Regions from separate parts of the Homo sapiens genome. Here regions 1 and 2 are each linked to region 3. The links come from fine-mapping of genetic effects on gene expression. A gene starts in region 3. Each other region holds a variant in brackets. All regions are shown on one strand. Distances are between the middles of the regions.

The links. PIP is the estimated chance that this variant, and not a neighbour inherited with it, causes the effect.
Region 1: its variant is fine-mapped to the expression of TRPV3 in adrenal gland (GTEx, PIP above 0.99).
Region 2: its variant is fine-mapped to the expression of TRPV3 in whole blood (TOPMed, PIP above 0.99).

Annotation. Positions count from the first base shown.
Region 1 is chr17:3,511,711-3,514,425 of GRCh38, reverse strand. It overlaps TRPV3 (transient receptor potential cation channel subfamily V member 3), which reads left to right. Exons shown (of 18, transcript NM_145068.4): 18 at 415-2,715. The coding sequence ends at 509. It also overlaps a transcript of SPATA22 not described here. Among named protein-coding and RNA genes, the nearest start is that of ASPA, 37 kb to the right of the region's middle. The variant T/G (reference allele first, on the strand shown) is at 1,411.
Region 2 is chr17:3,532,381-3,535,145 of GRCh38, reverse strand. It overlaps TRPV3 (transient receptor potential cation channel subfamily V member 3), which reads left to right. Exons shown (of 18, transcript NM_145068.4): 8 at 2,209-2,489. Among named protein-coding and RNA genes, the nearest start is that of TRPV3, 24 kb to the left of the region's middle. The variant A/G (reference allele first, on the strand shown) is at 1,624.
Region 3 is chr17:3,556,714-3,559,445 of GRCh38, reverse strand. TRPV3 (transient receptor potential cation channel subfamily V member 3) reads left to right here and starts at 1,634. Exons shown (of 18, transcript NM_145068.4): 1 at 1,634-1,770. RefSeq lists enhancers at 126-185, 256-315, 1-617, 526-755, 786-835 and 2 more and a silencer at 2,616-2,675.

The DNA of each region.
Region 1 (2,715 bases), 45 kb after region 3:
CAACTTTTAAAATGGCGTAGCCCTAAGCCATAGAAACACATCATGCAGGCCGGGCGCGGTGGCTCGTGCCTGTAATCCCAGCACTTTGGGAGGACGAGTCGGGTGAATCACCTGAGGTCAGGAGTTTGAGACCAGCCTGGCCAACATGGTGACACCTTGTCTCTACTAAAGATACAAAAATTAGCCGAACGTGGTGGCAGGTGCCTATAATCCCAGCTACTCGAGAGGCTGAGTCAGGAGAATTGCTTGAACCTGGGAGGTGGAGGTTGCAGTGAGCTGAGATCACACCACTGCACTGCAGCCTGGGTGACAAGAGGGAAACTCCATCTCAAAAAAGAAAAAAAAGAAAAAGAAAAAAGAAACACACTATGCAGAGTGATATATTTCTAAAATATATATTTTTTTAAAAAGCAGATTTCAACAAAATCCAAGATTCTTCCAGGAACAACAGCAAAACCACTCTCAATGCATTTGAAGAAGTCGAGGAATTCCCGGAAACCTCGGTGTAGAAGCGGAACCCAGAGCTGGTGTGCGCGTGCGCTGTCTGGCGCTGCAGGCGGAGTCACCGACTCTGTGCAGAGAGGCTTTGAGGGATGGTGGAGTCCGGCTCTGCTGGCCTAGAAGCAGAGTGCACCCTCGTGCTCAGTGCTCAGTGGGTGTCTGAACTGAGGGGCAGTTGTCAATTTGTCTGAGTGGGAAACATCCTGGATTTTGTTACTTGGCAAACAGCTGGTGTAAACCTACAGCCAGCAGCAGTCTGGAGCCTGGGAGCCTCCTGAAGTCCCGGGTGAAGCCTCTGGTTTTACCAATTGCAGGTCGGCTTGGCTGGGAGAGATGGATGGCGGGAAAGGGGCAGCAGTCTTGAGGAGCAGGGAGAGGAGTCTTTCCTCCTGCCAGCTTCCCCCGTCAGCCCCAACCCCAGCCCACACATTGTACCATCTCTTCTGCTGTGACTGGGTTGCCTGAATTTGTGGGAGACCCGTGATCCCATCCCAGAGTGTGCGGGGGACGGAGGTAAGCTGGATATCCTGGGGGAGGAGGGGAATGCGCTCTGGAAACACCCTTCCGGAACCCTTCGGGGAAAAGGAGACCATCCTTGGAGTGAACGTCCCCTGACACCCCAAGGTTCAAACTGTCTCAAGCTGAGAGATGTTTTTAGTAGCAGAATTAACACAGGGTTTTAACTTGCAATACGGAAAAGACATTTCAGTTGAGAATGAAAATTACTACAATGAAGTTTGTGATTTTAAAAGTGGAGACAGACTGGGGGCTTTGGGGCTGGATGTAAGTATTATATATTTGGCCTCAGGGTGCCCAGAGCAAGACAAAAAGCTTTTCTTCACACACACAAAAGTCTGCATGAGACACTCCGGGCAAGTCCTGCTGGGCCGCCGCGATCTGGGTGAAAGG[T/G]CCTGGCTCTTTTCCTCGTCCTGACCTCACAGTAGCGCGTGCCTGTGTGCTGGGATCGTGGCTTTCGCTGAAGCAGAAATAGCAGCTGCTCGATCGATATCATCTTGGAACTCAGCAGTTAGTCGCATACCTCAGTATGTCTCAGTGGGGGAATTTAACAAAATGCCTCAACTGCTTTGGTACGAAGTATTTTTTTTTTAATTTTAACTGTGAATTTTGAAGCTGAAGGGGAAGCTTGTGAGAGAAAAGCATTTGCCAAGACTTTGAGCTTATTTTTAGGTCCTCGTCCTCTGATGTTCTCTTTCTGAAATGACACGGAGTCAGTCTGGGGGGCAGAGGTGAAGTGGAGACGGAAGGATTTTCCAGGTGACTGGGGCCGAAACCACCAGAAAATCCACTCTGCCGCCGTTATCTGGTGAAAGGATTCATGTAAAAATGTTCGAGGTGGAATTATAAAAATAGTAACCATAAATGTTAATCTTAAATGGCAGAAATAGAAATTTGGCCTTCAGATAACATGGCGATAGATAAGTTCATCTGGCTTGAGGCAAACTGAAGAGTCGGGGCCTAGCAGTGCACTCTGGGCCAGTTTCTCTGCCCTGGGCCACTCTGTGTGCCAGACTAGCTGGACAGATAGAGACTTTGTGCCCCTGATGGGGCCGATTGGGGAGAGGTGGGCTGGGGTGTGTGAGGCTTCACAATCCACAGCAGCCCCTGCCCTCCCAGCTGACCCAGGGAGTAATCGCGTGCTCTAAGCCACAGTGGTCGGGGCTGGGCATGGGCCTCTGGAGAAGAGAAGATTTGAGGAGAACTGTCCTAGAGGCAGGAGGAGCAGATGTGTTTCAGAATGGGCAGAATTAGGAAATTGAGAAAGATTTTGGCTCAACAGAATCCAGCAACTGCTCCAGATGTTGGAGATGTTTAAGCAGAAGCTGGTTGCGCACTTAATGAGGAATGTTGTTGAAAATGGTCATTGGAAGAAGTTTAAGGTCCCTTTTAGCCTGGAGATTGTACAAATCAGCATTCCACATCTGGAGTTAGCTACCCGCATTAAGCCTGAACAGACATCTTGGTCTGAAAGGAAGTGGTTTGGATTCATGATGCCAAGCTCCACACTATGGAGCTGGGAATTCCAGAATTGCTTTGACTCAGATATTAATGGAGAAAGTCATATCCATTAATGGATAAAGCCGTATCTGTTATGGATAAAGCCGTATCCAGAGTTGCTTTGACTCGGATGTTAATGGATAAAGCCAATTATTGATTTCTATTTGCCTAACCTGCCAGCTTTTGTCCAAGTGGGGA
Region 2 (2,765 bases), 24 kb after region 3:
GGAGGGAGGAAGGGAGGGGCCACCCCGCTTTGAGCTCCACCCACACTGTCCCTGCCTTAAGAAGCTCTGGTGCCCCAGAGGGGCAGGAGGGGAGGAGGCTGGGCATGTCCATCTGAGCAGGACACCAGGGTGGACCAGAGAAGGAGGGGCTGGGAGGAGGTGTTGGGGGAGGAGTCCATGTTCCGGTGGTGTCACCTGGTGGTCTTAGAAGCATTGTCCTGGGTAGCTCTCTGAGGGAACAGAGACCTGGGAGGGAGGCTGAGGAGGCAGCCCCATTTTACAGGCGAGGAGATGGCTCTGTGAAGGGAAAGGACTTGCCCCAGGGTAGCAGGGCATTGACTTAGGTGTCCTGGCCTCCAGCTCTGACCTCTGTGCCAGGGCCCAGTGCATCTCAGGACTGCAGACAGGGAGTCGAGAGTGAGAGGGCAGAACTCCCCTGCCTCACAAGTCACAGAGTCCAGAAGCAATTGGGGTTAGGATGCTCTAGGAAAAAAAAAAAAAATTGAAATGCATAATTTAGATATAGTGAAAGTCACCCGTGTTAGAGGACAGTTCTGTTCATTTTCACAGTGCGTCGAGTTGGTTCACCACCACTGCAGTCAGAACAGGGAACAAATGGCTCCGTCACACACAAAAATTTCTCTGTGTAACTTTGTTGCAGAGGAGACCCCTCCTGCCACCCAGTCTTGCCTGACTGATGATCACCCATCTGTTTTCTCTTCTGGGTGTTATTTTTTTTATTTTTATTTTTTTAATGGAGTCTCACTCTGTTGCCCAGGCTGCTGGAGTGCAGTGGTGCCATCTGGCTCACTGCAGCCTCTGCCTCCTGGGTTCAAGCGATTCTCATGCTGCAGCCTCCTGAGTAGCTGGGACTATCTTCTGGGTGGTTTTTTAATCAGCAGGACTAGCTAGTCTGTGCTCTGGGCAGCCCTGCGTGTCCAGGTGTGGGTGTCCTGGAAAACGGGGTCTTGTCCAGTTCATCGTGTGTCCCCATTGCCCTGCATAGGAGCTGGTTGGACCTGGTGTTGGGAAGCATTTGTTGGGTGGGGCGAGGAGAGGGGAGGCAGCTGAAGACCTGGTGTCCGGAGCTGGTCGTGTCCCAGGCTTGCTGTGTGACCTCATGTGAGTCACTTGCCTTATTTTTTCTTAACAAGCATTTATTGAGCACTTACTGTCTACATCAGGCACTGTTCTAGGTACTTGAAATGTATCAGTGAACAAAATAGAGATCCTTGCCCTCATGGAACTTACATTCTAGACAGGGAGAGACCATCGGTAATAAGCACTATAAATAAGAATTTTATATACTATGATATGAAATGATAAGTGCTCTTAAAAAATACAAAGTAGACCGAGTGCAGTGACTCACATCTGTAATCCCAGCACTTTGGGAGGCCAAGGCAGGTGGATCACGAGGTCAGGAGTTCAAGACCATCCTGGCCAACATGGGGAAACCCCATCACTACTAAAAATACAAAAATTAGCCGGGCGTGGTGGCGGGCGCCTGTAGTCCCAGCTACTCAGGAGGCTGAGGCAGGAGAATAGCTTGAACCCGGGAGGCAGAGGTTGCAGTGAGGCGAGATCGCACCACTGCACTCCAGCCTGGCGACAGAGTAGGACTCC[A/G]TCTCAAAAAAAAAAAAAAAAGTAAAGCAGAGGACAAGGAACCAAGAGTTCTGTCTGGGACAAGAGGAGGGTGGATTTTAATTTTAAATAGAGTGGTTAGGGTGGCTCACTGAAAGGTGACATTTGAGCAAGGACTTGAAGGAGGTGAGGGAGAAAGTGACTGGGCTATCTACAGGCAGAGGGGACAGCCGAGCGAAGGCCCCCAGGCGGCGTGTTGGAGGAGGTGGAAAAAGGCCGTTGTAGCAGGAGGGAGTGAGTGATGGAGAGAGGAGGTCAGAGTATGCAGGGCTTTGTGGGCTGTCATTGGAACCTGTGCTTTCATTCTGGGGGAGGCACTAACAGGTTGGTCTGGCTGCTGTGCTGAGCAGAGTATTAAAGGGCCAGGGTGGAGGCAGGGAGGCCAGTTAGGAGGCTACCGCAGTGATCTAGCTTCACTCTTCCCCGTAGAAGCGGAAGATGGGGAGAGGGCTAGGGAACCTGAGGTGCCCATCCTGCTGAGATAGGATATGGGCCCCAGTCCTGGGGCTTGGGGGACGCTGCTTCCGGCCCATGAGAGAACCAAGCTTCAGTGCGCTCATCCCCCAGGTGAGACGCCCCTGGCCCTGGCAGCATGCACCAACCAGCCCGAGATTGTGCAGCTGCTGATGGAGCACGAGCAGACGGACATCACCTCGCGGGACTCACGAGGCAACAACATCCTTCACGCCCTGGTGACCGTGGCCGAGGACTTCAAGACGCAGAATGACTTTGTGAAGCGCATGTACGACATGATCCTACTGCGGAGTGGCAACTGGGAGCTGGAGACCACTCGCAACAACGATGGCCTCACGCCGCTGCAGCTGGCCGCCAAGATGGGCAAGGCGGAGGTGGGGCCATGGGGCGTGGGGAGGCAGGAGGTCGGGAGGTCAGGAGGTACAGCTGCCACCCTCTCAGCCCCGGGGGCCTTACTGGGGATTCACAAACCACAGCCTCAGCCTTGAGAAGGTCCCAGCCTTGGGTCCAGAACTGCAGTGGCGTGGCGGCCGGAGGCAGGTTTGTTCTGAGGGGCCACGCGGAGCTGGTGCGATGCAGCCCACTCTCTAGACTTCAGTCCCTAATACGCCGCGTTTCCATCTCTTGTCCTGGGAGGGCTAGGCTGGGGG
Region 3 (2,732 bases):
GGGTTAAATGGGGTTGAATATAGACCATCTAAGGGGCTGAAGCTGCTGCTTCTGTGTGTTTGGGGTGGGATTAGGATGGGCTCGGGCTTCCTAAGTAGTGACTGTGACTCCACTGGGTGACCTGGCTCCTGCTGCCTCTCATAGCAGAGCGGGGGTCCCCTTCTTCCTTGCTGGGCACAGGGCACACCTCTGGGTGGGAGACAGGGGCCTTTTTCACCAGCTCCCACCTGCCCTCTGAGAAAAGTTATGAACACGAGCAAAATGGAAGCACTGACATTTGGCAGCAGCTTCCTCCCCAGGCGTCTGAGCCGCCAGAGGCAAACAGGGAGGGCGCGGGGCTGGGTCGGGAGAGGGTGAGTAAGCTAGTGGCCGGAGGCCGTGCTCAACCCCAGATCGGGCTTTTCCGGTCGAGTTTCAGGCACAGTCATGAGATTTCAGATTGTGAGTGGGAACTTCAGGACCCCCTGACTTCAACGGCAGAAGCGGTCTCCTGCTTCACCCACACCCTCAAGTCTGGTCTGCCCCTTACCGGCCATAGGTCCTGCTCTCCCGTGGCCTAGAAGCCTCACCTGCCTCCTGCCTCCTCCCCAGGCCAGGCAGGTTGTGATGATGAGGGATTGAGAGGCTCACAGCTGGGGATTTCCCTGCCCATCAGGCGCCAGCTGCGGCCGCGTCAGCAGAGACTTCCTGCTCTGTCCCAGCTGTGTCTTGTCCACATCTCGCCCCGGGGAGCAGGTGTGCAGTTCCTGAGTGACGCGAGACACACACGGCCATCCTGACTCACTCCACCCACTTCACAGCTGCAGCCTGGGCCAGGAGAGAGGGCACCGATTCCTTCTATGACGCCCTGGCCTTGGAGAAGGGCAACCTGGGCAGTTGCTGGGAGAATACATTGAGATGACAAAAGCAATCATAGCTAAGAGCTGACATTGTTTATTGAGTTCTTGCCGTGCCCTGGGCCTTGTTCTGGCCCTTTCTACTTGTACTTGTTGAAGCCCCACGATAACCTTGCAAAGTGGGTTTATGAAGCACGTTTCACAGATGAGGAGACTGAGGCTCGGAGAAATGACCTGCTAAGGTCATTCAGCCAGGAAGGGGTGAGGCTGACACTAAGGGCCATGATGCGTGACTGCTGGTGGACAGCATTAAATGGGGACTTCCGTCCCCGAGAGACCTGATCCCAGGAACCGACTTTTGAGAACAAGTGCCGAGTCTTGGGGCTGGCCACCCTGAGGTCAACCAGGCTAGGCCTGGGCTGCGGTCTTCCCTCCCAGGGGACAGAGCAGAGCGCTTGACTCTTCACTAGGCCCTCCCACCTCTGTGATCTCTTTGGCTCTTCACGGCTCCCTTGGAAAGTAGATGTTATCATTCCCATTTCCTAGTTGGAAAAATAGGCCTGAGATGGGCAGTCCCTGCCCAGCATGGAATGCCAGAGAGGGAGGAGTTGGACCCACAACTTCGATCTTGGCACCTGCGGCCTCCCCTGCCTTTTCTCCGGTGGGGATGAGGCTGCTGTGTGGGTGTGGGGGTGACTCACACGGGCCACGTGGGTGGGCGGGTGCTGCAGCTGTGGCTGGTGGGCGTGGCCTGCCTGGCGCCGAGGGCAGGTGGCTCAGCCAGTTCTGCCTCTGACGCCTCATTCCAGCCATCCCTCTGCCTGCAATGAGAGCTTCCCGCCGCCTCAGCCACAGTCCCACCCGGGGGCCTTGGGCCCCAGACATGCGGTGATCTCAGGGCAAGGGTTGCCACGACCACCCAGAACCTCACCAGGTGAGTCTTCTGTGCACAAGGCAGCTGGTGATCTCCAAGGCCCCTGGGGAGCCCAGAGCGTGGCCCTCAGAGGTCCTCTGGGCCATGTCTGCCCTTGGCCAATAGGCCTTGGGAGGAGGGTTGGAAGGAGCTTGGGCCCCAGCCAGGGGCCCACTCTTGGCTGTAGGGAGGCACTCTTGGCTGCACTCTTGGCTGTAGGGATGTGTGAGAATATAGGTCCTTACAGACTCAGGAACATTCCCCTGAGGTTTGGGAATCCTGGGGAGGGACATCTCAATCTCACCACTGCTGGGGGCAGAGGAGAGGCTCCTGCCTCCCGAGGCTGACCCAGGGAGGTGGCTTTCTGGGGCAGGATTGTGATGGGAGTTCAGGATGGGAGGAGGTGGCCCCACCGTGGGAGACAGACGGGGCCCAGGCATCTCACAGGTGCTGAGTCAGCAGCTGTGGCTCCGCGGCCTGGTCTGTCGCCCGGGAAAGGCCATTTCAATCAGTGTCAGGGATTGGGAGAGAGAGGGAGGGCCAGGGCAACAAGAGAGTCCAGCAGGTGAGAACGTGGGGTTTACGGGGTGACTCAGGGAGCTAATGATAGCTGCTGCGGCCCTAGTCCAGAGTTCCCTGAGCCTCTCCTGCCCCAGAGGCCCAGGGCAGGCCACATTCTCGGGCCCAGAGAAGAGAGAGAGCAACCAGCTCTCAGGGCCACAGAGTCCTTGGGGACCATTCAGCCCACTTCTCAGAAAGGAAACCAGAGGCCCTGGGAGGGGCAAGAGACGTGCCCTTCTTCTGTCTCCTTCACGCTCGGTGCATCCCAGCCTTTTAGTCCACCAAAGGCCACGTGGGGATGGGGAAAGCCATAGAGGCTGCCCATCCTCATCAGGCCGTGACTGGACACGGGAGGGCCGGGTGCCCAGGAGTCCCTCTCTGTGGGCTACTCCACCTGCCTGGCCTCAAGGTTGCCTACGCTC